7 separate regions of the Homo sapiens genome follow, and all the other regions are reported to be linked to region 3. The links are microRNA targets in miRTarBase. Many come from high-throughput screens and were not tested one by one. Region 3 holds a microRNA gene; each other region holds the end of a gene's coding sequence.

Region 1 (4,062 bases), not on the chromosome of region 3:
AGAGTTCTCAATAAGAAGGCCACAGTCAAATACTAATGGAATCTCAACTCTAAATTAAAATGACTAATCATTAAACTGTTCAACTTAGAGTAATAAAAGATTTCTAGATACAGACCCCGCTGGCCTATAGTCAGTCTGGGAAGGGCTAGAAAGAACCAACCCATTGTGTGGCTTCCGTATCTTCCTTGCACAAGCAATGAAACCCAGCAGGGAAAGCAGTGGAGCTGGCAGAGGGCAGGGTGAGAAGACACCCAGTGAGGACTGACGGGAGAGGAGAGGCCAGGGCAGCCTCAGGTACAGCTCATACCTGAACTTCCTTGGCCTCAGAGAGGGTTGCTGTGATTGCCCATGGCTCCCTACAGGCCACCAGAGGCCCTTGGTCTGGAAATGAGAGTGAGAGCAGTTTAGGCTGGTGTCTGGCAGCCCTGCCACAGGTGTCCCGGGAAAATTCAACTCCTCCATAATGAGACTTTGATGGGACACACATCCCTGAAAATAATGTAAAAAATAAGAAACAAGAACCATTGCTTTCTACAGTGGTCCACTCAGCGGCCCCAGTGTCATTTACTGTACTGGCTTGGAAATGGGCAAATTCTGGAAACTATCCATCCCATGAGGATTTTCCCCTTCATATAATACAGGAAAGGGAAAAACCAGTTTGAATGGGTGGTGTTTATTCAAAATAATCTTGTGAGAGCCTTAGGAACTAAAAAGATGGTATGTATCTGATTTTCATATCTTCTTTTTTTTTTTTATTTTTGAGAAAGAGTCTCACTCTGTCGCCCAGGCTGGAGTGCAGTGGCATGATCTCGGCTCACTGCAACCTTTAACTCCCGGGTTCAAGTGATTCTTCTGCCTCAGCCTCCAGGACAGCTGGGACTACAGGCACGTGCCACCAGACCCACCTAATTTTTGTATTTTTAGTAGAGACGGGGTGTCACCATATTGCATATTGGCCAGGCTGGTCTCGAACTCCTGACCTTTGATCCACCCGCCTGGGCCTCCCAAGTGCTGGGATTACAGGCGTTAGCCACTGCGCCCGGCCCTGATTTTTTTTTTTTTTTTTTTTTTGAGACGGAGTTTTTCTCTGTCACCCAGGCTGGAGTGCAGTGGTGCGATCTTGGCTCACTGCAAGCTCTGCCTCCCGGGTTCATGCCATTCTCCTGCCTCAGCCTCCCGAGTAGCTGGGACAACAGGCGCCCGCGACCATGCCTGGCTAACTTTTTCTGTTTTTAGTAGAGACAGGGTTTCACCATGTTAGCCAGGATGTTCTCGATCTCCTGATCTCGTGATCCGCCCGCCTCGGCCTCCCAAAGTGCTGGGATTACAGGCGTGAGCCACCGCGCCCGGCCTTTTTTTTTTTTTTCTTTGAGATGGAGTCTCGCTCTGTCGCCCAGGATGGAGTGCAGTGGTGCGATCTCGGCCCACTGCAAGCTCTGCCTCACTCTGTCGCTCAGGATGGAGTGCAGTGGCACGATCTCGGCCCACTGCAAGCTCCACCTCCCGGGTTCTCGCCATTCTCCTGCCTCAGCCTCCCAAGTAGCTGGGACTACAGGCACCTGCCACCACGCCCGGCTAATTTTTTTTTTTTGTATTTTTAGTAGAGACAGGGTTTCACTGTGTTAGCCAGGATGGTCTCAATCTCCTGACCTAGTGATCCGCCCACCTCGGCCTCCCAAAGTGCTGGGATTACAGGCATGAGCCACTGCGCCCGGCCTCTCATTTTAATTTTTAAGAGACAAGGTCTTGGTCTGTCACTCAGGCTGGAGTGCAGTGGCACAATCATAGCTCACTGTAACCTCAAACTCCTGGGCTCAAGTGATCCTCCCATCTCAGCCTTCCAAGTAGCTGAGACCACAGGTGCACGCCACCATGTCCAGCTAATTTTTTTTTTTTTTTTTTTTTGGTAGAGATAGGGTCTCACAGGCCGGGCGTGGTGGCTCACATCTGTAATCCCAGCACTTTGGGATGCTGAAGCGGGCAGATCACCTGGGGTCGGGAGTTCGAGACCAGCCTGACCAATATGGAGAAAGCCATCTCTACTAAATATACAAAATTAGCCAGGTGTGGTGGCGTATGCCTGTAATCCCAGCTACTTGGGAGGCTGAGGCAGGAGAATCGCTTGAACCCGGGAGGTGGAGGTTGCAGTGAGCTGAGATCACGCCATTGCACTCCAGCATGGGCAACAAGAGTGAAACTCCTCAAAAAACAAAAGGGCTGGGTGCGGTGGCTCACGCCTGTAATCCCAGCACTTTGGGAGGCCGAGGCGGGCGGATCACGAGGTCAGGAGATCGAGACCATCCTGGCTAACACAGTGAAACCCTGTCTGTACTAAAAATACAAAAAATTAGCCAGGCGTGGTGGCAGGCACCTGTAATCCCAGCTACTTGGGAGGCTGAGGCAGGAGAATGGTGTGAACCCGGGAGGAGGAGCTTGCATTGCAGTGAGCCGAGATCGAGCCACTGCACTCCAGCCTGGGTGACAGAGCGAGACTCTGTCTCAATAAAAAAAAAAAAAAAAAAAAAAAAAAAAAAAAGAGATGGGGTCTCACCATGTTGCCCAGGTTAGTCTTGAGCTCCTGGCCTCAAGCAATCCTCCTGCCTCAGCCTCCCCAAGTGCTAGGATTACAAGTGTGCCTGGCTTCTATTTCATTTCCTAAGTAAACTTAAAAAATTAAACCGGGACATCAGTTTGATAAACTTGAAAGAAAAAATAGGCCAGGCGCAGTGGCTCATGCCTGTAATCCCAGCATTTTGTGAGGCTGAGGCAGGCAGATCATGAGGTCAGGAGTTCGAGACCAGCCTGGCCAACATAGTGACACTCCCATCTCTACTAAAAATACAAAAATTAGCTGGGTGTGGTGGTGGGCGCCTGTAATCCCAGCTACTTGGGAGGCTGAGGCAGAATTGCTTGAACCCAGGAGGCAGAGGTTGCAGTGAACTGAGATCACACCACTGCACTCTAGCCTGGGTGACAGAGCAATACTCCATCTCGGTTGGGGGTGGGGGTGGAAAGAAAGAAAAAAAATATATGCTTTTAAATGTTTTATCTTATTTCTGATAACAAAAAATACTTGTGTTGCAAAAACTCAAAAACTTCAGCAAGATAAAAATGGAAAGCCAAAGTCCCATATAAGCCCACTGCTCTTCAGAAATACAAGGTCTACAATATTATTAGTTTTAAGAAAGTGCTTGAAAAACAGGACAAGGGAAAAAGCAACCAGGAAGAAAAATGGCTTGTGAGCAGTGATATGCTCTGGACATTTGCTAGTGAATGTCACCTCTTTCACTGGCAGGCTTATCATTTTATTTTCTCTGTTCACAAGAAGATTTAGGGTGTCCTGTAATATGTCTACTGATCAAAAAATGCAAACATTCTGGTAGCATAAGTGGCTAAAAATAAGAAAGAAAAAAATCCTGAGGCCTGAAAATGTATTGGTCATGTGTAGGGAATATTTTAAAGACCCAAAAATGTTGTTTGGAGTCATGCTGCCACCGCAACAGTTTTATGAGAGCCCTTCTGCTACACAGTATTCCATAAGGAGGCCTGCCTGCCTTTCGCCAAAGTACAGGCACCCTGCTCCAGATGCCCCACAACCAGGCTGCTGCCTCAGTTTTCATCAGCACCATTTTCACATTTCATTCCAATAAATAAGGATGCACTTAATCCTTGTCAGGGGCAGCACCTGGTACCCAGAATGCTGGACCTTCCCTGCCCTCGTGCTCATTGCCCCACCTCAGCAGGGCCTCTGACCCTGGGTACTTGGCAGGCTTCAGGGACTTTCTGCTGTTGGCCAGCCCAAATGTCCTGCAATTTCTCTTTCTAGCTGAGACCAATAAATCAACTGTGGACTGGTCAGAAGCCATCATCATCACTGCTATCAAAACCCAGGTCATAGAGCAAATTCTTTCCTGCCTCCTTGCATAGAGGGGTCTCTGAACATCCGAGATTGAGGTCACTGAACCAGCTCATCTGGTGGTCCCCCTGGGAACTGCTGGAAAGTAGCCAGTTGTCTTGGGAAGAGCACCTGCTGAGCTGCAAGAGTCTTCCCTGCACTGCCCT
Region 2 (4,069 bases), not on the chromosome of region 3:
AGCTCTTCTTCATAAAAGAAATCTCTATATACAATGTTGTATTTTTTTAACACTAAAAGGCAAGCCAGGTTATGGTTTTAAGAAGTACCAATTTAATAATGAATACTTAGAAATATGGTACACAGATACCATAGTAATATAAAATGCATACAATTTTAAATTATTTTCTTATAAACTCTCTACATGAATGGCTGGCGGCTTCCAACAGATAAACTTTTGGACAAAGGTACAAGATATTTTTGGGCATTCATTTTAAATACCATCTAGTTATCCAATTAGGAGGTTTCTAAAAAAATAAATATGACAAATATATGGATTTCTGAAGTATAAACTGACATACAAATCTATATATTTTCTTAATACTTTTCATTAAAGCATCTTTAAAGCATTCTGTAACATGAAGTTGAGAGTTCAAATTAGATGTAATGAAAAGGCATGAGGTTTTATTAGAACTGTGTAATTCACATATCAAATTTTTACATAAAAGTAAACAAACACAAAATTGAAAAGCAAAATACGTTATTTTACTCTCCAAGTTACCAATTTCAGAAAACTACTCACTGGAAAAATTAATATTCCCAATTCTGAATGTTAATAAGAAAACATGTAGGTGCAATTCCAGAAACTTAATTCTACCTTCTAAGAAGCAGTGAAGGAGTAAGGTAACACTGCCCCTTGGGGATTGTCAAAGCTTTTCTAGAACTGCTGGAGAGCTGATTCTCTTTTGAGACAGTGAGAATTAAAACTATCCATTCACCAGCATACAAACCTGTGATAAGCTCTCTTTTCCAAACTTCCATATGATCAGAACTCTGAACCATAGGTTAGTGAACTGACCTTAAATGTGCCCACCTCCTCCATCTCACTGAACAGGCAGCTCCAGAGGAAAAAAAAAAAAATCCATTATGTTTTCTCACCTGAACAGTTTGAATGAAATATCTATTTTGAAGTTATAGAGAAGAAATAATAATCTTACACAAGGGCTAGTTTGATGGAACTTAAACTCTTAAATTTCATGTAATAAATGCTAGTTATTAGAAGAATATGTTCTTTAGTGGAATTTAAACCATCAAAACTTAACTGGGTACATTACTAGTTTTAAAAGTTAACATGGGAGAAATAAAAGCATTTTCCTGCACTAATTTAGAGCAGTGGTCTTCAACTCTGACTACAAATTAGAATCACTCAAAGAGCTTTTGGAAAAACAAGCATGGCTCCATCTTCCAGAAATTTAGACTTAATTGTTATGAGGTGGATTCCATATTAAAAGTCCTCAGATGATTCTAATATGAAGTGAGGGTTGAAAACCACTGATTTAAAACAATTATTAAATTATTAATGACTTATGGTGGTCTTGATTTAAATAAATTATTTAAAATTCAAATACATGAGCACTTTTTATGTAATAGGCACAGTTCTAATAATAAGGTAATTTTTTAATAAAAATCATTGGATAACATTGATACATTTTTATCATTTGAATTATATAAATTTATTAAAATATTACTCAAACTTCTATTATAGTCTGCTGTCACAAAAGATTTCCTATTAACTTTTCTGAACTACCCTCCACTTGATACTATGGCAAAAGAGAGATCACACTCAGAAACTTTTCCTTAAGAAAGATACATGGAGAGAGCCTAAGAATTTTAAGAATTCATTTTCAAGTCACAGTACATGAGGTATTCTCCATCTTTTATCTGGAGTCACAAGCCATAACCTAAGAACTGAAATTAGGCATTGTTTTTGGATGCTTAACAGAATCTCCTAGATCAAGACCAACTCCCACTGGTATCAGTGCTTGCTTTAAACTACCTAAAAAAAAAAAAAAAAAAAAAAAAATCTATGGCAGATCCTTAGGGAACCTAGTAAGAGTGGGTCTTCTAATGCAGACCTTGTATCTTATGACCTATTTATAAAACAATTCTTAAAAAAAATACAGGATATGGTTTTTGAAACATATATAATTAGAAATTAGTTATCTCAAAGGAACTAAAAAATATATAGTTTTGAAATACTATATAATTAGAAATTACTATCCCAGGATGATAGCCAGAGCTTTCATATTTTAAATTAGAACCAACTTTTTAAGGTATTATAAAGCTCATTTAAAATGTACTTTAATTCAAGAAAAAAAATCAGGTATAAATTAGTAAGTTTAATTTGTAACTACTTTTTAACCTATTTTTCAGGTTTAAATTTGCCCAAACCAACTGAAAAATTTATTAATACTATAGTAGGCTAATTATCTTTTATATCCAGACATTAGGCCAAAAATGATACAATTCTGGTTAATCCATAATATATGCATATATAGGAAAATGCAATAGTAATTTGTTTTCCATACTTGATGATTAAAATAGCTTCAAATATTTTATGAAAGCTTAGTCAAAATAAATATTTAATAAAAAGATATACCATAACAAAATATCAAGAAGTTAGTGTTTGAAAATAAACTGTCACGTTGTTTTGCTTTCAGTCAAACAGAACTGAATTCAGTGGCTTAAGGTATCTAAGAATAATTCAATTGTGACTTTGGAAACAAAAAAATTAAAATCCAGGTTAAGACTACAGAGCTAACACAAAGATGAAAGAGAAGTTTACTACGTTATAACTCAAAAGTTTAGAGTTATTGGGACTTCTCAATGACTACGATCTAAGAAACATGAATAATTTGGGGAGTAAAAGTAAAAAAAAAAAATCATGATTATGTGATTCATGTTGTGACACTCTCAATAAGTAAAACTAAACAACAAAAAATACAGTATATATGAGCACCATTAAAAATGTGTGTATGTAGCTATACATGTGTCAAACTTTACCTGATTAAAAATTACATTTAAAGTTAAAAACAAGTATACAATTATGAAAATACATTCTCAAGCTAACATGTCATGACTTATTTTAAAATGTTTCATCAAGCATTCCTTCTAAAACTCAACTAAGGAATACAACATAAAAAAAGCCAGCATTCTTTTGTAGTGTAAATCCCTTGATTAAACAGAATTACTTAAGTGTTTTCAATTCATAGTTAGATTCTAAGAGGTGCAAGAAAAATGAAGTAGGCAAATAAATGGGAATTAACAGAATAAACCAGCACATGTTGGATTTGTCCTCAAGGGATTATCATTCAGGCCTCAAAATTATTTTTAATTGAGAGCAGTAAAGATTACATTGCCAGAAACACCTTCTTTCTATAATAAAAGTTGTAAATTTGTCACTTCCGCTGTAATATTTCTGCTATATTCACCCACACTCTGAAAACAGCGATACATAATATACATCCTGGGATAATACAGGTCTTTAATGAAAATCTTATTTTGATCCTACTTCAAGGCAGCTCATGATTGACCATTAGGAACCCTTGAACTTTTTTTCAAAGCTCCCAGTAAAAGCAATCACATGATACGGATTGATGTTCTTTGATACCATTGTCACGATAAATATTAATGTTATTCACCATTTAAAATACGTTCAATCTCTTCTAGTCTTTTTAAAGCAGCAACTCTTTTCTTCTCAATTTCTTTGATGTCTTTTGTTGTTTTGTGGGGTGTCTCTTCGTCTCCATTTTTTCCTAATTGTTTGTTGGATTTAGACTGACTTTTATTATCACTTGTTTTTACTATTTGTGTTTGTCTGGATTCACCTCTAATTTCTTTTACACTTTCAGTTGGAATTTTCTTTCCTTCCACACTTGAAATCTTACTGGTTGGGAATATTGGCTCTATAAAACTAGATGAGGAAATCTTATCCCTGACTATATTCAAATGGCGCTGAATATATTCTTCATGTGGTGCTAATGCCAGTGTTTCAAGAAGGCATCTTTCAGCTTTTAATAAGTCTTTTTCTTCAAAATAAACAACACAAAGATTGTGTTTTCCTTGCACATTGCTTGGATCCATCTCCAAAATCCTTTCAAAACATTTTTTTGCTCCTAGTATATCTTTCTTTTGATTCATCAGAATGTCTCCTTTTAAAATGAGGCCCTTGATATGATCAGGGTAGTATCTGAGTAACTCCTCCAAAATTGGCAAAGCCTTTAATTCCTTTGCAGTCTGGGAATACAGGA
Region 3 (4,069 bases):
AAACAACAAAATAAATATCCAGATCTCAACATAGATTTTTTTTTTTAAAACACTACCATTCTGTTTTGTTAAAGGACTGCACTGTTGCAATATTATCCCATTTCTTTCAGCACTTTCAGAGGAAAGCACAATCAATTCTGCAAGCTAAGAGAACTAGGACAATATAAACTGATGGTTCAGGAACTTCCCTGGAGGGCTCCACAGAATGTTCTATTTTTAACTCTCACTTTAACCAAGAAGAGAGCAGGAAGGAAATGCAGTGCTCAGCACAAAAGTATTGAACAGGCATTAACAGGCTGATTTTATTTTATATAGGTGATCTGAACTAGCATTTGTTCTAAAGGAAAGCATTCTTAATAACACAGAAATAATCAGAAAAATTACAAAAAGTATTAAAGAAATGCTTAGAATACCCATGAATCTAAGGTTATTTCACTTAATAGTACCTATTAATTTTTTTTCCAGACTGTGCTTGTACAATAGAAGCACTGTGAAGGTAGTTTTCTTTTTTTTTTTTTTTAAAGATGAGCCATTTTACTAAAGCCAAATTTATTTGTAACTAGGCATCTACAAGACCAAATTGTTAAAACCTCAAGCTTATAATCTTGGGCTTCTGTCTGTGGCACTATTTTAGTAGGTGGGCAAGTTCAACTAAAGCCAGCCCCATGGGTGTATTTGGAAGGAGATGCAATTGCCATCACACTTGATTATCCCTTCTCATCTCTCATCCCCTCTTCTCTCACTCCTGTGCCTGAAATAAACATATACATATACAAAAACCAATTCTAACAAAAACAGTCACACAGAGTTTATTGCTCACAGCTATTTAAAGAACTATTCCATGGAAGAGTCTATACAACTCAAGGAAATCTGTGGGTACTTACCAGATATATTTGGCTCCAGATTTCAGTGGCGGCAGGTTAATGGAGAAGGGAAAAGGGAAATAGGTGGATTTGTAGGTATTATACAATGTCTGAATCTATGCTGAATCACACAATACATACTAAGAAATGCTCACAGAAATCAATGAAAAAACAAGAATAGCCAGAGCCACTACCTAGTAATTTACAAATACAAAATTCCTATTACTTGGATTGAAAGTTGTCAGTAAAGAAATTGACTTTGTGCCTTGAGTCCCTATTTGACATAGCCGACTCTCCTATCAATAAGCCCCCTCACCTGCTTACCCAGTAGTGCTGACTTTTCTTTGCTCGCCTTTTACACCCTAGTTACTCTTAAATTTGTGCCTTCAAATTCTGTCAACAATATGCACACATTGAAGACTGTTTATCCTAACAAGTTTCTTCCATAGTGTCGTTCATCAGGATCCTACCATAGTCTGCTGGTAACAAAGCTTAATCAACTTGGAACCATATGATTCTGGGTTATCTGGAAAGCTAAGACTAAAGATATAATACATTGATAATCTTTGAAGTTATCAAATGGTTGCAAAACTAAAAGTATAGTTTCACAGAATCATTTTGCTTTCCACAGGTATGCAACAACATCATCGTTTGGAAAAAAAAATTAAATTATATCGTTGGTAAGAACCGAGACCAAGTAGCTTCAAATGCATTTAGGTGTATTAGGTCCGTTTGATGTCATGCTTTCATATATAACAATATCCCTAAAAAGTTGTGTAGCAATAGGGAGAGACATATTTGACTTCTGCTAATGAGTTTGGTATGCTTAAAACATTAAGCTTTTTAGATAAGCTCAAAACCAAACTGAATTTGTCATCCAAATCTACTTTGGAAAAGAAATAAGCAATAGCTTTCACAAATTTTTAACAGGTAAATTATATTAGGCCAAAGATGTCACTTAAATTCTAATCCCTATTTCTGAGTATGATGCATGATTTAAAGGTATTACAATTAATGAAAAATATAAACAAATGTTAACACCTTCATACAGCATTAAAAAAAGCAAAAAAGCAGTGGAAACCTGAGTAAAAAGAAGCCAGGAAGCAGCTGAAAAAGAGACCGGTTCACTGTGAGAAATGTAAACCTCTCAGACAGTGCTACGGCCCCGAATCCAACAGCTCAGGAACAAGGCCAATTATTGCAAAATATTAAATGTATATGGTGAAGCTACAAACTTGTCAAGAGTCATAAGAATAATAAAAGCTACACAGAAAACAGCTAGGGCTTTGTAAACCTAAAATCTTCACTATAATTACTACCTGCAGAAAGTTTCTTTATACTATACCACACTCCTTATATGCAGTGTACTTCACAGTATTCAAAGCATACATTTTATGATAAAGGTTTAAAGTAATAAATCTTTATTAGTGAAACTGGTAAGTAATCTGATCTTTTGAAATAGTTGCTTTCATTGACTCCAGTTATTGACAGTTGGTTGCCAAGCTGTTACAAACCAATTCTCTATTATTCTACCTTTTAGAACTAGAAATGACTCACATGAGACACAAAGAATTATGGAGTTTTACAGTACACAGAGGCTTCAACAGACAACACAGTAAAAATTCCATACTTTGCAAATGAGTCCAACTGAAACTCAGTGGCTTTAAGTGATATGCCTAACACCAGTTACAAATGACTAAGGGCCATCAGGATTCTGACTTTTATTTTGTTGTTCTTTCCCATTATACAGTGCATTGTTCAGAAAGTCTTATGTGTGTAGCCAGGGTTTCTTCTGTTTCTGTTGACAGGGGTTTACTCAACCTTGTTTTGAATGAACAGTTCAGTAGTTTCACATTCATAACAAAAGACTAGTACATTCATTTCCCCAGCAGTAATGTTAGTCCTGATTTCAGTTGTGGTCCACTGGGACACATGGATAAAAGACCTAGAGCATTTTATCCTTGAGATATTTCCCCATCCTCCTCCCTATCCACCAAAGGAAAAATAATGAAAGATCCTGTATTTCTACTGCCCATACCCTATCTGGTCTAAAAATACTTTGCTCAGTTGGGCTTGTTAATTTAGGGCAAAATTTCTTTAAGTTCAAATACAAACTTTTAAACATTACTTGTGCCACAGTGAAAAAAAATTGCTCCAAGTCTACTAGTGTTTTCATTATTTGGTTGAATAATTAGTTTCACCCTTTTATGTAATTAAAAAAAAACATGCTTCTTGACACTGTGGGGTAAGCAAGTGTTGTTTGACAAGAAATACAAATATAAGAGATATGAAAAAGTATTTCTCATTTTTAATCAGATTGGGATAGTAGAATGTAGAGAGGTAAGAAAATAAAAACCAAAAGGAAACCCAGAAGTATGTTTCCATATAAAAATGTAAATTATGAGACAGTAATTGCTATATACCTGTAAAAAAACTCAAAAACAATAAACTATCATGTTAATTTCCCAGTACATTTTACTTTTCTACACTAGGGCACATACAAACATAAATGCACACTTTTCTGTTAAGTTTTTTTTTTTTTTTTTTGAGACAGTCTCACTCTGTTGCCCAGGCTGGAGTGCAGTGGCGCCATCTCAGCTCACTGGAACCTCCGCCTCCTAGGTTCAAACGATTCTCCTGCCTCAGCCTCCCGAGTAGCTGGTATTACAGGTGTGCGCCACCATGCCCGGCTAATTTTTTTTGTGTATTTTTAAAGTAGACACAGGGTTTCACAATGTTGGCCAGGCTGGTCTGAAATTCCTGACCTCAGGTGATCCACCCGCCTTGGCCTCCCAGAGTGGTGGGATTACAGGTGTGAGCCACCGTGCCTGGCCTTCTGCAAGTTTTGACATAAAAATTAATGATGAGCTAACTATAAAAAAGTCTTTAGATTATAACTTTTAAAAAAGAGTTCAAATCCCCACTAATTCTATGAAAAGGTTCAATACAATTACCAACACAACAGTTGGCACTGGCCCTGCTGAACTTTTCTTTAAAGGAAAATTTTCTATGATACTTATTAGCATAACAAAATTCCTTTCTCTTTTAGATAAGAATGCTTTGAGGATTTATTCCTTTTATTCTTCAAACTGAATGAGTCAACTAACTTAAGCTGTAAGTTAAGAGGATACTATATAAAACAGCTGAAAGGACAAGTCTAGCTTTTATAAAGTGTTATATTATGACTGACTCATAAGAGTCAAACA
Region 4 (4,069 bases), not on the chromosome of region 3:
ATCCATACTGCCCAAAGCAATTTATAGATTCAGTGCTATTCCCATTAAACTACCAATAACATTATTCACAGAATTAGAAAAAACTTTTAAAATTCATATGGAACCAAACAAAACAAAACGAAACAAAAAACCAAACCTGAGTAGCCAAGGCAATCCTAAGCAAAATGAACAAAGCTGGAGGCATCACACTACCCAAATTCAAACTACAGTACAAGGCAACAGTAACCAAAACAGCATGGTGCTGTTACAAGAACAGACACATAGAGACCAATGGAACAGAATAGAGAACTCGGAAATAAGACCACACACCTACCTATAGCCATCTGATCTTCTACAAACCTGACAAAAACAAATAATGGGAAAAATATTTCTTATTTAATAAATGGTGCTAGGAGAACTGACTAGCCATATGCAGAAAACTGAAACTGGACACCTTCCTTACACCATATACAAAAATCAACTCAAGATGGATTAAAGACTTAAATTTAAAACTCAAAACTATAAAAACGCTAGAAGAAAACCTAGGCAATACCATTCAGGACATAGGAATGGGCAAAGATTGCATGACGAAGTGTCAAAAGCAATTGCAACAAAAGCAAAAACTGACACACGGGATCTGATTAAACTAAAGAACTTCTGCATGGCAAAACTAACAACAGAGTAAAAAAGACAACCTACAGAATGGGAGACAATTTTTACAATCTGTGCATATGACAAAGGTCTCATATGCAGCATCTATAAAGAACTTATGATATTGACAAGAAAAAAGAAAACCCATTAAAAAGTGGGCAAACGACATGAACAGACACTTCTCAAAAGAAGACATACATGAGGCCAACAAGTATATGAAAAAAAGCTCAGTATCACTGATCATTAGAGAAATGCAAATCAAAACCACAATGAGACACCACCTCACACCAGTCAGAATGGCTATTATTAAAAGTCATAAAAACAACAGATGGTAGCGAGGTTATGGAGAAAAAGGAACACTTTTACACTGTTGGTGGAAGTGTAAATTAGTTCAACCATTGTGAAAGACTGTGATGGTTCCTCAAAGACCTAAAGAGAGAAATACCATTTGAGCCAGCAAACCCGTAACTGGATATATGCTCAAAGGAATGCAAATTGTTCTCTTATAAAAACATGCACGTGTATGTTCACTGCAGCACTATTCACAATAGCAAAGGCATGGAATCTAACCTAAATGCCAGTCAGTGATAGACTGGATAAAGAAAACGTACATATACGCCATGGAATACTATGCAGTCATAAAAAGGAATGGGATCATGTCCTTTGCAGGGACACAGATGAAGCTGGAGATCATTATCCTGAACAAACTAACATAGGAACAGAAAACCAACTACTGCATGTTCTCATAAGCGGGAGCTAAACGATAAGAACATATTGGACTCAATGGTGGAAGGAACAACACACACTGGTGTCTGGCAGAGGGTGGGGGCTGGGAGGAGGAAGAGGATCAGTTAGAATAGCTAGTGGATGCTGGGGTTAATACCTGGGTGATGGGATGATTTGTGCAGCAAACCACCATGACACACATGTACCTCTGTAAGAAACCTGCATGTCCTGCACATGGACCCCTGAACTTAAAAGTTGGAAATTTAAAAAAAAAAAAAAAAAGAAATTTCAATGATCTAAACCTTACAATTAGATTAAAAACCAATATTAAAATAAGTTGTTTCTGTAGGTCTTGAAAAAGGTCACTTTTCTTTAAATAAGTTATTTCAAATTCATTACTAGGAATAAATAATCTGGTTTTTAAGTACATAGTAAATACAATTATAATACTTACCTTCAGCACAAGAGTGACATGATTCTCTGGATGTGACTTTGAAGGAATAATTTCCATATAGTGTTTGGGCACTTTGTATCTCAGCAGTCAATTATACACAAACACAAACAACTTTACCACTGTGGTAGAATGTCATAAAATATTAAGGATACTTTCTTTACAAAAGCTGTGATGACACATATGAAGTTTCTAAACTTTTAACAGGACTGGAAAACCAATGCAGAAATCTGCTCAGTAGACAACTTAAAATCTAAACCCAAACATATTTTGATAGATACAATATGCAAAATCTAACTTTACAACAGGAATAGTACTAATTCCTTGTCATTAACACCTTACTAGTACATTAATACCTTTACAAACAGCATCATATAATAGCATAATATTTCATCTTACTCCTCCATCCAGGATCTTTTGTGAGAGGCACTAATAAAGAACACTAGTTTTGGCGACGCTGTATCAAACATACACATAGTATAATGGTCTATTTTACTATGTTCACAAAACATCATTTATAAAGAAATTTTTATGAATTCAAAAATAGGTTGTTAGTAACATGATTACCTTTAAAGTATGGATTTTGATTTTCATTCACAATATTAATTCATTAATCTTAAACAGTAGTTTCATCTACAAAATGTTCTACAGCTTTTTCCTTTTTGAAAAGGAATAAAGGCAGTTAAGATACTCATAACTTCTAGTTAAACAACATCAATTTTGTTTCACAGTATTAATTAGTAGAGAACATTTTCAATTAAAGTGATATACAATTTACAAAAATAGAATGATTTATATATTGCAAAACATTGTCCTCCATTATGAAGAATATATATATACATGTGTGTATGTGTATATATGTGTATATATAAATATTTCTTTTAAATTTTACAATAGCCCTTATTCAAGTACTTTGGGATTCTCTTGAAATAATCACCTTGCTGTATATTGTAAATACATTTAAAAAGTAAGATTAATCTAAGAAAAGGATAAAAGTTTCAGTGTAGTTTGACTTAAAAAAAATCAACCACTTACTTGAGTAAAAACCTGACTGAATTCAAAACAGGTTCCGGTGCCATACTAAGTTCAAGAACTTTGTTAAAAATATAGATAAATTTAAGTGTCAAAGACTTAAACATTTTCCAATTTGCTAGCATTAGAGCAGAATTAAAAGATTGTATTAATCTATTAACTATCCAATCTTAATCCCCAGACAAAATTCATTTATCTAGTATTACTAATACACTAATATACAATATACCTGCTTACAAACACATAGGTAGCCATAAATAAAACTTTATTCTTTATTTCATTTACAAGCTACCAAATATTATGTATCGTACACAGTGCTGAACACTTAAATGGCTGTAGTCATGGAAGGATCCAGACTGAATGGAAAGCTGTTGAGAAAGAAAAGATAAAAGCAAAGTAATACTGCAACAGGAAGGTGGCAAAAGCATAGTTTTGCCATAATAAAATCAATTAGATTTGTGATTATACATCAGTTCCGGTTAAAATGTCTGAGCGCCATGCGATTTTCAGCTTTATTGTCTGCAGTCTGACTAAAGTCTGTATAGTCATTTTGTCTTTTGCAGTTATTAAAATAAAAAAAAGTTAAAAACTATAGCAGCAACAAGCAAACCCTGTGACAGGAAGGCAAGGGTTAAGAACTAAAAAGAGTTTATACAGTGTGTTCAGGGAAAGTGTGCAGTTTATCTTCCATCAGCAGGAGTTCGACTGAGGGACAACATGATTCGGGCAAATCGCTCACAGAGTTCATGCGTGGAATATGAAGGTAACTTCGGTGGCTCATGGAAACTTTTAATCTCCATAGAACAATCAAGCAGTTTTGGCAAAAAATCTGTCAGCTTTTCTTGGAGGTGTGCTGCAAATACAAACAATTAAATCTAACTAAAGATAGAAATTATTACACGATCATTGTCAACATGATTTACTAATATTAACTTACTCTAATAGGTAAGATAATTGCCATTTTGGGGAGACAAAAACATAAATGGCAACTGCAATGCACACAGCTTAGTTCATCAATATGGAAAAAGAGTAATCATGTGAATGTGAAAATATTAATACTTAATATTGTATTTAATATAAAAAATGGCAAGAATAAATAACATCTAATTCTAACTGCATTTAATCCGGACATCTCAGGTGCCTACTACCATTGTTTAAACTTACGTTCCATTTCTTGACCAAGGTAGGAACACCATCGATTTCTCATATCTTCTACAGCTAGTATATCCT
Region 5 (4,069 bases), not on the chromosome of region 3:
GCTGCGGCCCTCCTAGATGAAGCACTGCTTGCCAAGAGCCCCGCCAACCTCTCTGAGGCCCTCTGCGCTGCTAATGTGGACTTCTCCCACCTACTGGGCTTTCTTCCACTCAACCTGCCCCCGTGTAACCCACCTGGGGCCACAGGAGGCCTGGTCATGGGCTACTCCCAGGCTGAGGCACAGCCCCTGCTTACCACTTTGCAAGCTCAGCCTCAAGATTCCCCAGGAGCTGGGGGACCACTGAACTTTGGGCCTCTGCACTCCTTGCCTCCTGTCTTCACGTCTGGCCTGAGTAGCACCACCCTGCCTCGTTTCCATCAAGCATTCCAGTAGCCCCCACAGAGGCCCTCAGCTCAGTTTTTGGCTCTGTTATGGAGCCTTAGTACCCACCCCGTCTGTGTCCCCCATGAAGGCAGCTGAGCTTTCAGAGCTGGGTTCAAAAAAAAAAATTCCAGTGTCTGTATACAGGAGCACTTGGTTTGGGGGTTCAGGCTCTAGGATCGATTCCAGAAGGAGCCTTGAGCCCCAACCCCGTGAAAAGATCTCATACCGTAGGACTTCAGGTATTATTTACTTTTATTTTTTTGACCTGAATCGGGAGCCACACTTGGCCCTCTTCCTCTCCAAAGCGCCAGAACCTCCTTCTCTTTGGAGAATGGGGAGGCCTCTTGGAGACACAGAGGGTTTCACCTTGGATGACCTCTAGAGAAATTGCCCAAGAAGCCCACCTTCTGGTCCCAACCTGCAGACCCCACAGCAGTCAGTTGGTCAGGCCCTGCTGTAGAAGGTCACTTGGCTCCATTGCCTGCTTCCAACCAATGGGCAGGAGAGAAGGCCTTTATTTCTCGCCCACCCATTCCTCCTGTACCAGCACCTCCGTTTTCAGTCAGTGTTGTCCAGCAACGGTACCGTTTACACAGTCACCTCAGACACACCATTTCACCTCCCTTGCCAAGCTGTTAGCCTTAGAGTGATTGCAGTGAACACTGTTTACACACCGTGAATCCATTCCCATCAGTCCATTCCAGTTGGCACCAGCCTGAACCATTTGGTACCTGGTGTTAACTGGAGTCCTGTTTACAAGGTGGAGTCGGGGCTTGCTGACTTCTCTTCATTTGAGGTCACATTTTTCCCCCGTGGGGAAATAAACTGACTTTGGACTGCTTCAGTCTCTGCCATCTTCCATGACTGCATTTGTTCCTGCCTGCCTCGGCGGTATCCACAGAAGACAGGCAAGAGGATTGGAGCAGTTTTCTCACAGGTCTGCAATTCTGTTTTTCTCCAAGTACATTATGACCCCCTCATCCTTCTCTTGAACTGGAGAGGGGAAGAAATGAAAGGCATGCCCACGTCCGTCACCTCCCCATCCCCTAGTCCCCACCTTGAACATCATGAGCTGTTGTTATTAGTCTTGGAAGCAGAGTCTGGGTTGGTGTGGATAGCAAAGGAGGAAGTCTGAGCCCCTCATTGGTCTTCCTCCCACCTGTCCCTTTTCCGGGAAGTTGTGGAATTGTTGGAAGAAGAGTTTGCAGAAGGTTAGGAATGGGTAGATAGCTAAGTCCTAATCTATGGGTACATTGTTGTGTCCCAAACCAAAATTTTCCTTATCCACAATGTCCCTTCTGTCTCTTCCACTTTACAGTGGACTCGGCCACTGTGCATAGGCTTCTCTGCTCTCCATCAAATCACTTCCACTTTCCTGTGCCCCCACCCCCGCCTCCAGTTTTCCGCTAGTATCCGGCAAGGTTTCTTGCAACAAATGATTAGTTCTTTTCTTCTGACTCGTGGGGCTCCCTGCTGCAGAGAGCACAGCCCTTGCCTGGAGCCCAGGAACCCCATCCTTGCTTCATCTCAGTTCTTCATGGGCTTCACTCTTCCCACTCACGGAAGGGAGGTAGCTCAGGGACCTCCACTGTGGGACCCTTGAGACGCTTCCACTCTGATTCAGAAACACACTTCTACCTCTTTACTGTTAACTCTTAACAGATGCAGTCAGCAGTTTCTGGGCACTTCTCTCAGTAGGTGCCTCATGCTGACTTCTCCAGTAGGGTTTCAGGACAAACTACCAAGGAATTGCCTCAGCCTCCTACCAGTCCTCCCTCACCCACCTTCTGTCTAGGTTCACTTGGTTTGTCATCAGGAACTGAGCAGGTCCAGGACTCAGCTTTCTGCTTCAGCCTAAGCCAGTACTCCTTGTTTGAGGTAAAAGCCTTAAAATTTAGCTCCCTAGCTCTTGATTAGAAGCAATTTGGAGTAAGTGTGTTTTGATTTAGGCAGGGTAGCTTGGGATACCTTTTTAAAAACACCAGATATTAAAATGTCTGGCAAGGTTAGAATCAGACTAGATGATTTGCTTCTAAAAATTAGTTTCAGTGAGTCCCAGGGACTAATTAAGGTTTATTTTAAAAAGTGTCTACCTTGGTACGCAGCCACCTCCTGCATGCTGTGCATGTTATTGGGACTTGTATTATAGGTGATGGTATGTGAGAATCCAGTTGGGACTCGCTGTTGCCATCCTCTTTGTTGTATCTGGTTTTCATCACTAGACTCAGCAACCCTTCTCACCTTAACTGCCACCTTCCCTACACTCTCAGTTTACAGAGGCCACTGGGCCTCTGGCTGCAGAATACAAAGTCCCGGGCTGTTAGAGGAGTCCTTTCCTCTCTGCCTGCCCTTTCCTGTCCCTCCCTCGAATTCTCTCTCCCCGTAAGTGATGCTGGAAAAGTCATAGGACTGGCAAAGCAACTGTTTAAACCCTTTGTAACCGGGGCCTTGCCCCCACCTCCTGTCTTTTCTCCTTGCCTTCCCCACTCCTGTGTCCTCCCATCTATCCTGTCTTTCCTTTCCTCCTCTCAGTGTCCTCAGCACCCACAAGGAATTTTCCTATCACTGTGAACTTTGCTGGTACAGAGGAATAATATCTGCCTTCACCTTTTTTTTTTTGGACCATAGCTAGCCAGTCATTTCTTAAACCTCCCTTCCTAAAATCTGGGGGGTCGGGGGGAAAGAAAAAAAAAGCCTTAGTGGCCTGGTTGTTCAAAGGATAAGAATAGCTTTATCCTGCACTCAGTACCCGAACTCACTTCAGTATGCTTACTGAGGCCATGAGAACCTGAGGGGCATCTGCCCAGGACAGGAGCCATGGCATATGACAAAGACCAATGAGGGACCAGGAAAAAAAGTGATGTCCCCTTTCCCTGCCACCTCCAGCCTCTGCCAGCAATGAGCTGTCCCCCTCCCACCCTACACAGTAGCTGGTCAGGGCTGAGTACAGTCCTGGGGGTAAGGGGATGACATGCCCAGGTGTCAGCTCAAAGGATCTCTGCATCATCTTGAGGTGGGAGGCAGGGAAAGGAGCGCCAATGAGGTTCCCTGCAACCCCCGCCCTCCAGCCCACCGCCCAACCTTTTACAAATGGCATTTTCTTAATTGAAAATCCGGGAAGCAGGTGTGATTACTTTTTTGCTCGTAGATATTGTCCTAAGTTGGAATTCTCCCACTGCCCTAAAACTTTCCCTAGTAGTCCTTTAAACTCCCCCCTCCCTTTTTGGTAGCTGTTTTCTCCGTCCTCTCTCCACCTGCCCTCTTATCTAGGAGCTGTTTGTAAGCACGATTTTTTTAACAGGTTATATTGTACAGGATCAATATTTTGCTTTTTAACAAGGATATTTATGTAATAAGAAACTTTGCCTTAGGCAGGTGTTGGCCAGAAAAGTCCAGATTCCTCTGGGATCCCACCCTGGCCTCTCCTGGAACTCTGAACCTGCTGTGGAAGGAATTGGCCATGACCTTCACCTCTGGAGAGTAGGGTCTATGGCGAGGGAAAAGGGTGTTCACCATGATAACCTAGTGCCTCCATAGAGGGGTTTGGAAAAATTCCAGTCCGATTTCTTTGTGTGTCAGCTGACTTCCTTAGCTGATTGTTCCCACTTGCACCTCTCCACCTTTGGCACTAGAACTCCTGAGACACCACTTCTCATGCTTCTCCCTCCCTACCAGCGGTCAAGGCTTTGGAGCCACTCTTTTGTAACTCCAGATTATTTAAAGAGAAAAGTACAAGACAGAAATC
Region 6 (4,069 bases), not on the chromosome of region 3:
TCTAGCATCTTCTCTGCCCACGCTCTGCCTTCCTCCTGGTTGGTGCTCCAGCGTCTGACCTCTTCACTAGTACCCTGGATCCCAGTGTCTTCACCTGCTCAGGCTCTGCTCTAGTCCATTCTCCTCCTCCTCTTCTCGTACAGCGTCAATTTTTCTACTTATCGTTCCCATGAGTATATAAATTTATCCTAGAATTTCTAATATTTTAAAACACCAAAATCCTCAAAAGCCCCCATCTCTTCAGTTACCCATCCGTTTCTCTGTGTTGGGAGACAATTCTCCATGGGTTTCTCACGTTTCTCACTATCTTACAAGTACATATGGTGATGGCTTTTGTTACAGGCTGTTTTCAGGATGAATAGCCTTAGATAGGTAATCCGTTCTCCAGAGCAACAGTTTGTTTAGCATCCAGTATAATATGTCTTCCTTCTAGACAAAGGTTTGATAGATTTACTTCTAGACCACTGTTTAAGATTCAGGCTCCCTAAACTTGGACCTCCCCTCCTGTAACTCCACCCAGCAAATGTGTATTCGAGGTCAGTACAGTATGTCTTCTGCCAGTATCCATGAAACTGGTAGCTTAACTTGTTACCTTGCAAGTAGGACAAAATCTCAGACTTTTCAGTCCTTAACACTTGGCCCCTTATTCACAGCTCCTGTTTCCAAGTTTATCTTGAATCCTCCTAGATTTACCCTGACCACTCCTTTATAACTGTTTTTTTCAAAATGACCTCACTGATGGTTAATCTCAGCATATATCCAACTTCATACAAATTATTAGTATTTGATATAGTGGCCACTCTTCTACTTCAAAATAAGTGTTTTCAGCTGGCTTCAGATACCACCCTCTACTGGTTTTCACCCTAACCCTGGTGGTTCCTTCTCAGTTTCATTTGCCAGTTCCTGCCCAGCAAACACTGGGGTGAGTGCTCGGGGCTCAGTCCTTGACATTCTTTATACTTTTTTTTCCTAGGTAATCTCACCTAGCTTTATGGCTTAAAATATTATCCCTGTGACAACTCCCAAATTTTTATTTCCTCTGAAATTGGGCTTCAGAGTCAGTCATCTTACCTCTAAACGCATAAGAGGCATGAGACAAACAGTTGCCACTTGGAATGACCATAGGGGAAGAAGGGTCCTTCTGGGAAAGCCTCATTACAGTCGGACCAGCAAGGCTGAAACTGAGATGGGAGATTTGCTGATTGTGCTGTTTCCCCTCCTGGTCCATCCTCCATCTTTCTACCCTGCTTTATCCCAGGAGGACGGCATCACCCGGGCTTCTGATTAGGTTCAGTTGATGGAGGCATCTTCAGGAGACAGCAATAAAGAGCTGAGGCTTTTCCCCCTCTGCTCCCTTTCCTGACAGTTCTGTGTTTCTCACAGTAGCTGCATCTTTGTAGAGCTTCAACATCCACTTAAGAGACACTCTTCCTTTTTATTTTTCTATCTCCTACAGGAAAGAGACCTTCCAACATTTTGGCTCTCACTGGGCTCTGAAACACCATTTCTTCCTTTGGTCCCTAGGGAGACAACAGCTTCTTGGCACTGCTGGTCTCTGGATTCCTTACCATCCGTTGTTTGTTCCCTTAATCCTTCTCTCATTCTCCAAGTCATCCTTTCATAAGGCGCTAATTCAGTTTACTGCTAAAGCCCTCACTGATAAAGCTGGTGAGGTCCACAGGTTAAAAATGGAAGGAATTCTATTCACCAGGCCCATAAAATCATATACAAAGACACACATATATAAGGGTTTATCTTTATTTTATAAAAACTGCTACACACACACATACACTCTCTCTCTCCCCTCTTGCTTTCCTCATTTGACCTAGAGAAGTTTGGAGTTTGTTCCCACACATTCTTTTCAAGGAAATACCATTCAGCCATGGTATGTTTTTACCACAATTTATTCATCCATTCCCTTACTGATGGTCTTTTTTTTGTTTGTTTTTTTGGTCCTTACCAAAAAATACAATATACATTAGTAAACATATAATCTTAAGTGCTGGCGCTTTTTATTCCTTAGGGATAGATTCCCAGGAGATTCCTAGGTTGTAAGAGTATATTAATGTTAAAACAGACTCACAATGTTGTCCAAGGAGGCTGTTACAATTTACATTTCTAAAAGCAGCTATGAAAATAACGTTTTCCCCTCCTTTGTGAGTAAGTAAGATGACAACTTAGACAAAAGCTTATTGGGCTATGGATGTTCTGGATAAATTTGTTCAGAAAGTCACTCAATATATAGTGTGACAGCACATCAATGATATCCAAAAATATTTTTTAAAAGCCAGTTTTTGGTTGCCATTTATAATTTCCAATACATGATTTGTGATTGATAGGGAAAGGCTGAACTTAAGAATTTGAAATCAAGTCTATAAAAGCAAATCTTTGAGTTACACAACAATTCTTGTTAATATCTGGAGAGACCACTGAAAAATCTGATTTTTATAAAAGTGTAAACATGTAAAGGAAAAGTAATAACTTATAACTCATGTTCCAAAGGGAAATGTTTTAGGTTGGCAACAGCAAAACTCAAGGAAGTAGAAATGCCTCCTTTAAACAACAAAATAGTGTAAAAATTTACTTCTAAAGGGGGTTATGCACGTGAAAAATTTAAAAAGCAATGAAACAGTTGACAGTTATTTAAAATAATTTTTCCTCTAAAGTCTCTGAAATGTAACATTTGTGAACTACAGAAGCATCCTACCATTTTTGCTAGACAATTCATGAAATATTAAGGGAAACAAGGAAAGACAAAAACAGGTGGTTTCTGTCTGTGTTACACAATATTTTGGTAACAGACATGCATTTGTATGCAAATATCCCACGGGAAAATAAGAGCATGACGAATGGGGATATTGTCTTTACACGGCAAACTCTTATTCTGTGGTGCATACTGAGTAGTACAGCTCATGTCTGCCTCCTTCACGTTATAGATCGGTTATTTCACATTTGCATATTTGTGTAAATAGTGCTTCTAGAAAATCTTCAGCAAACCAGAAGCAGGGAAAACTTCAACACTGTCTTCTGTTTCCTAAGAGGCAGCTCAAGAACAATGTTCATACCAACTGATATATGCCAGCAAGCAGTAGGGAAAGACGTAGGTTCCATGCTACTTTAAATGTTACACATTTCATTTGGAATGCATACTGGATTGCAGAGATACTGAAAAACACATGTGATGTTTAGTATGGAAAATCTTGTTATGTCCTAATTATCACAGAGGACAAGAATTTCAAATTCCCAGTGATTATGCTAAATTCACATGTGCAGATCTAAAGCATACCACTTGTGTTTTGTGGCATATCCACATAAAACCACTAAATTCATAGGATACTGTTTGTATATTTCTTATGCTGCTGTCTAGAATACTCAATTCATTCAAGATTTTAAAAAGCTCATTGTAGTACAACTGGGTATGGCTATTTACAACTGGATATATTCTGATATGTATTCTTTAGCTGGGTATCACATGTAACTTCCAGTATAATGTTCTCATGGGATCCTATTTTTAATACATTTTTGAGTTGAGAGATTGCATCTCAGTATGAATTCCCATGTTCCCTCAATACTGTCATGAGGTTTTTCACCCGCTTGAAGAGTTCTGGCAGGAGTTTTCCACAGTAAGACCTGGCTGGAGTTTCAGGGTTTCTCCCCGATGTGAACTCTCTGATGGACACTGAGTCGGGACTTCCTGCTAAAGGCCTTCCCACATTCGGAACACTCATATGGTTTCTCTCCTGTGTGGATTCGCAAGTGTAATCTAAGAGTTGACCTCTGGCTGAAAGTTTTGCCGCACTCAGTACATTCATAGGGTTTCTCTCCTGTATGAGTTCTCATGTGTATGATGAGCTGTGAGTTCTGGATAAAGGATTTTCCACATTCACTGCACTCATAGCGTTTCTCCCCCGTGTGAATCTTCTGATGTATGATAAGGTTTGACTTCTTAAAGAAGGTTTTTGCACATTCGTTACACTCATAGGGTCGCTCTCCTGTATGAATTCTCTGGTGTGTGGTGAGTTCAAACTTTTGGGCAAATGTCTTTCCACATTCACTGCACTCATAGGGC
Region 7 (4,062 bases), not on the chromosome of region 3:
GGAGGCTGAGGCAGGAGAAATCCTTGAACCTGGGAGGCGGAGGTTGCAGTGAGCCATGATCACTCCACTGCACTCCAGCCTGGGTGACAAAGTGAGACTCCTTCTGGAAAAAAAAAAAAAAAAGATGCAAAACTTTGACACAGCAGTCCAGTGTGGTGGCTCATGCCTGTAATCCCAGCACTTTGGGAGGCCGAGGTGGGTGGATTCCTTGAGCTCAGGAGTTAGAGACCAGCATGGGCAACATGGTGAAACCCTGTCTCTACAAAAAACACAAAAATTAGCCAGGTGTACCGAGGTGCACCTGTGGTCCCAGCTACTTAGGAGGCTGAGGTGGGAGGATTGCTTGAGCCCCGAAGTTCAGGCTACAGTGAGTTGTGATTGCACCACTGCACTCCAGCCTGGGTAGCAGAGCAAGACCTTGTCTCAAAAAATTAAAAATAAAAATACTTTGACATAGTCAAAGTTTGTGCTCTCTTTAATTTTTTTCATTATCAAAAGAGAATATTCTATATGGAATTGTCTGTCCTACCAAAGGTATGACCTTGTAAATGTGTATTTGTCTTTTCAATCCAATTCTCCTTTTATATCCATATTTTACTCATTTCTTAATTGTAATAAAGTGGAAAACTGATCTAATTATATATAAAACCTTGTGTCAAAATAGATTTAATGATTAACACTAATCAATTGCCAGGAGACAAAACACAAACAAAACAGATAAACCAAACAAAACTAAATCTACCACCAAACTTACAACAGGAATAGAAAATGGTGAAAGCAACAGAAATATATGTGACTGATACAATGTTGAGATACTTTCCCTTCAATCATTATAAGCATTTGTCAATAACAGTTCTATCATATTTTCCTTTTTATATTTAAAGTATCATGATCTCCACATTGGATGCTCTATAAATATCACAATCTTAATGATGAATTCTAGACTCATTCAAGTTAGAGCAACTGCTTTACACAAAATGATAGCAGTAGACAAATCTAGGCAGCTGCTTGGGTGGGGTGGGGTTCTCACAGGTTCTGAAGCTAGCTTGCAGTTAGAATTTTGGGAGTCAATAGAAGTAAATGAATTCATGAAATATTTCAAATTATGATTCAGTGCAAGATACATACATATCTTATAATTCTATTCATCATAAATATTTTCATATGTATATGAGAATACATCTAAATATATGTAACATGTACATATATAAATGTATGTATATATGAGAAATGCTTGTAAATTTCTGTCCCAAACTTAGAATTATGTACAAGATCCCTGAATTTCATAATTCGAGGCAGTGTAATTTTATAGGCATGACATGGGACTAGAAAAGTGTGCTCACTCATTCTAAACCCAGTTGTCACCAACCTGCTAGATTCTGGGCAAGTTGTTCTTCCATGCCTTAGTGTGATTATGGCAAAGTAGAATTTGCCTGTAGCCCTTTAAAGAGGATTAAAATAAGTGCAAAGTGCAAAGTCACATGAGCAAAAGTGCTTATGTAAAGCCAAGACACAAGGAATAGCAAGATTTTTATATGCAACGTGGGTAACTTTTAAAAGCAAGTTAGATTTCCTAATTAAATGTAAATGTTGCTAGATGATTTATTTGCAACAAGCAACAAAGAGACTGAGAATCTAAAAGGATAAAGTCTTTGGCAGTCTGTAATGATTAAGGACTTACTTTTATCTGCCTTAAGATGATGCATCTTAAAAGAGAGACATACACTCACATATGCACTGTAATATGATTTATGCTTTCTAAACTTTTAATTTGGTAGGAACTATCAAACATGTGGGTTTGCAGTCTCACTCCTGTAAAAATTATAAAACAAAATAAACAATGATCATTTTATAAGTGATCCTAAATGATAAGAAAATGTAATAGCCTGGCAAAAACATAAAGCACAGAAATTTCTATTCTATTTTTCAGGAGTATGTTATTTCTTGAGCTCCTGGAAGAGGAAACAAACTCACATATACCTACATACCCACCCAGATAAATTTGTGTGCATATACTCCAGAAATTTATAGCTTATATGCTGCTACATTCTTAAGGAAAAACTGGTTATACATATGATTTAGAAGAAGAGACAAAGAATGGGTTTATATGATTATGGTGTTTTCCTTTTGTGTTCAGACATATTAAGAGATGCAAAAGGTTTCTGGTAACATTAATCAATATTATTTTAAGAGCAGAAAAGCAAATTACTTTTTCCACATTCTCAAACTATTACTTATGAAGTTTAACAAATTTCAAAATAATCATATGTAGTTATACAGAGAGATAATTTTGCAACGAAGATGGGAGTATTTACTAATCAGTAACAGGGGCAACTTCATTAAGTTCTAGTGTCTCCTAGATTTTAGGTCTGTTTATTTGATAGCATAACAACCCTTGCAAATCCTTTTCATTGCAAACTTGTATCTTCTGAAGAACTAACTTCATAGCAAATAGTATTTTTTAGAAGAAGAAAACTACTGACCCCACTACCTATAATAAAACATGACTGACAGCAAGAGTTAAGAACTAAACTCTGCAAAATATGATGACTGCTGTGCAATAATTTAACATATAAAACCAAGTGATTATATTAAGGTCACAGATTTATACTGAAATGTCAAATTCTGTGAAGTATTTCTAACCCCCCGCCAAAAAAATCCTAAGAAAGAGTAGGTCCAATATCTTTTTGGATAATCTTTTTTTTTTTTTTTTTTTTTGAGATGGAGTCTCACTCTGTCGCCCAGGTTGGAGTGCAATGGCACAATCTCGCCTCACTACAACCTCCACCTCCCGAGTTCAAGCGATTCTCCCACCTCAGCCTCCCCAGTAGCTGGGATTAGAGGCACCCGCCATCATGTCTGGCTAATTTCTTTTGTATTTTTGTAGAGACGGGGTTTTGCCATGTTGGCCAGGCTGGTCTCAAACTCCTGACCTCAGGTGATCCGCCCACCTATCCCTCCCAAAGTGCTGGGATTACAGGCGTGAGCCACTGCGCCCAGCCTGACTTTGGATAATCTTAATGGTTAGACATCCTTGCTTTTTTAATATTCAACACAAGAAATCTATAACCTTTATCTGTACAAAGGATCCAAAGAGTTCACTAATTCTACCTATGCTCTTTATAAGAAAGATTTTTTTTGAACCATTAAAACAAACATTACAAAAAAGTGCTTTCTTCTTAACTGCAAGGATATAGAGTCAAAAAGTCTCTTATCAAGCTGATAATGATCAAGTTCAGGTCCAAGATGCAGACAGAACTTCTGTGGTACAGTACATGGACTTATTCTTCCTTTATTCCTTGCAGTTTGTCATAAAAAGTTGGATAGTCATGTCTTTTGTGGTCTTCTTCTTCTTCTTCTTCTCCTTCTCCTCCTCCTCCTCCTTCATCTCCTTCTCCTTCTTCTCTTTTCTTCTTCTTTTCTTTCTTTCTTTTTTTATTTTATTTTTGAGATGGAGTCTTGCTCTGTCGCCCAGGCTGGAATGCAGTGGCGTGATCTCAGCTTACTGCAACCTCTGCCTCCCAGGTTCGAGCAATTCTCCTGCTTCAGCCTCCCAAGTAGGTGGGACTACAGGCATGCCCCATGACGCCTAGGTAATTTTTGAATTTTTAGTAGAGACCGGGTTTCACCATGTTGGCCAGGCTGGTCTCGAACTCCTGGCCTCCCAAAGTGCTGGGATTACAGGCATGAGCCACCATGCCCGGCCTATCAAATAACACAAATTTCTTATACCAAAATGACAAGGTAGTCAGTGAGATGGGAGAGACATAGATTTTTTAAATACCCTAAATCCTTTTGTGTGCCCAGGATATGGTGGTGGTGGTGAAACACTGTGTTTTCTGGTCAGCGCCACTGCCTGTTCATAAGAAGGTAATCCTGCATCCTCCACAGAAGGCGGCAATGGAGACAAGGCAGCCTCCTCAGGTCTTCTGAAAATGATGGAGGGAGTGTGCCTCCCCCTTTCATAGACGGCTGAAGAGCTAAGCAGAGAGACAACATTTAGGTCTAGGAAAGGTAGCATTTTTAGGTTGAGAGGACAATATTTAAAAATCCAACCAACTA

Evidence for each region. Region 3 holds the annotated microRNA hsa-miR-128-3p (UCACAGUGAACCGGUCUCUUU, at 1,976-1,996, opposite strand). A microRNA usually pairs through its seed, bases 2 to 8, with sites in the 3' UTR of a target mRNA and lowers its output. Matches are read on the target gene's strand: a 7mer-m8 pairs with bases 2 to 8, a 7mer-A1 pairs with bases 2 to 7 and ends in A, and an 8mer does both.
Region 1: the mRNA of IHO1 is a reported target of hsa-miR-128-3p. The part of its 3' UTR that is shown has no 7-base or 8-base seed match.
Region 2: miRTarBase lists TMTC3 as a target of hsa-miR-128-3p. Seed matches in the 3' UTR shown: 7mer-A1 at 1,669-1,675.
Region 4: miRTarBase lists USP25 as a target of hsa-miR-128-3p. Seed matches in the 3' UTR shown: 7mer-m8 at 3,150-3,156 and 7mer-A1 at 2,533-2,539.
Region 5: the mRNA of PLAGL2 is a reported target of hsa-miR-128-3p. Seed matches in the 3' UTR shown: 7mer-m8 at 1,653-1,659, 7mer-m8 at 1,911-1,917 and 8mer at 2,888-2,895.
Region 6: miRTarBase lists ZFP1 as a target of hsa-miR-128-3p. The part of its 3' UTR that is shown has no 7-base or 8-base seed match.
Region 7: miRTarBase lists PRRG4 as a target of hsa-miR-128-3p. The part of its 3' UTR that is shown has no 7-base or 8-base seed match.

What each region holds. Positions count from the first base shown.
Region 1 is chr3:49,257,076-49,261,137 of GRCh38, reverse strand. It overlaps IHO1 (interactor of HORMAD1 1), which reads right to left. Exons shown (of 8, transcript NM_001135197.2): 8 at 3,032-4,062. The coding sequence ends at 3,856. Among named protein-coding and RNA genes, the nearest start is that of MIR4271, 15 kb to the left of the region's middle.
Region 2 is chr12:88,195,033-88,199,101 of GRCh38, reverse strand. It overlaps TMTC3 (transmembrane O-mannosyltransferase targeting cadherins 3), which reads right to left. Exons shown (of 14, transcript NM_181783.4): 14 at 1-4,069. The coding sequence ends at 3,453. Among named protein-coding and RNA genes, the nearest start is that of TMTC3, 55 kb to the right of the region's middle.
Region 3 is chr2:135,663,373-135,667,441 of GRCh38, reverse strand. It overlaps MIR128-1 (microRNA 128-1), which reads right to left and starts at 2,045; the gene lies at 1,964-2,045. All of the region lies in intron 19 of R3HDM1 (R3H domain containing 1), which reads right to left. It overlaps LOC124907893 (a long non-coding RNA gene), which reads right to left. Exons shown (of 2, transcript XR_007087245.1): 1 at 885-4,069. RefSeq lists an enhancer at 2,628-2,727.
Region 4 is chr21:15,877,926-15,881,994 of GRCh38, reverse strand. USP25 (ubiquitin specific peptidase 25) reads right to left here. Exons shown (of 26, transcript NM_001283041.3): 25 at 4,004-4,069; 26 at 1,931-3,692. The coding sequence ends at 3,520. Among named protein-coding and RNA genes, the nearest start is that of USP25, 150 kb to the right of the region's middle.
Region 5 is chr20:32,192,716-32,196,784 of GRCh38, reverse strand. It overlaps PLAGL2 (PLAG1 like zinc finger 2), which reads left to right. Exons shown (of 3, transcript NM_002657.3): 3 at 1-4,069. The coding sequence ends at 333. Among named protein-coding and RNA genes, the nearest start is that of PLAGL2, 13 kb to the left of the region's middle. RefSeq lists an enhancer at 1-482.
Region 6 is chr16:75,169,908-75,173,976 of GRCh38, reverse strand. ZFP1 (ZFP1 zinc finger protein) reads right to left here. Exons shown (of 4, transcript NM_153688.4): 4 at 1,743-4,069. The coding sequence ends at 3,643. Among named protein-coding and RNA genes, the nearest start is that of ZFP1, 23 kb to the right of the region's middle.
Region 7 is chr11:32,853,214-32,857,275 of GRCh38, reverse strand. PRRG4 (proline rich and Gla domain 4) reads right to left here. Exons shown (of 6, transcript NM_024081.6): 6 at 1-3,980. The coding sequence ends at 3,749. Among named protein-coding and RNA genes, the nearest start is that of PRRG4, 25 kb to the right of the region's middle.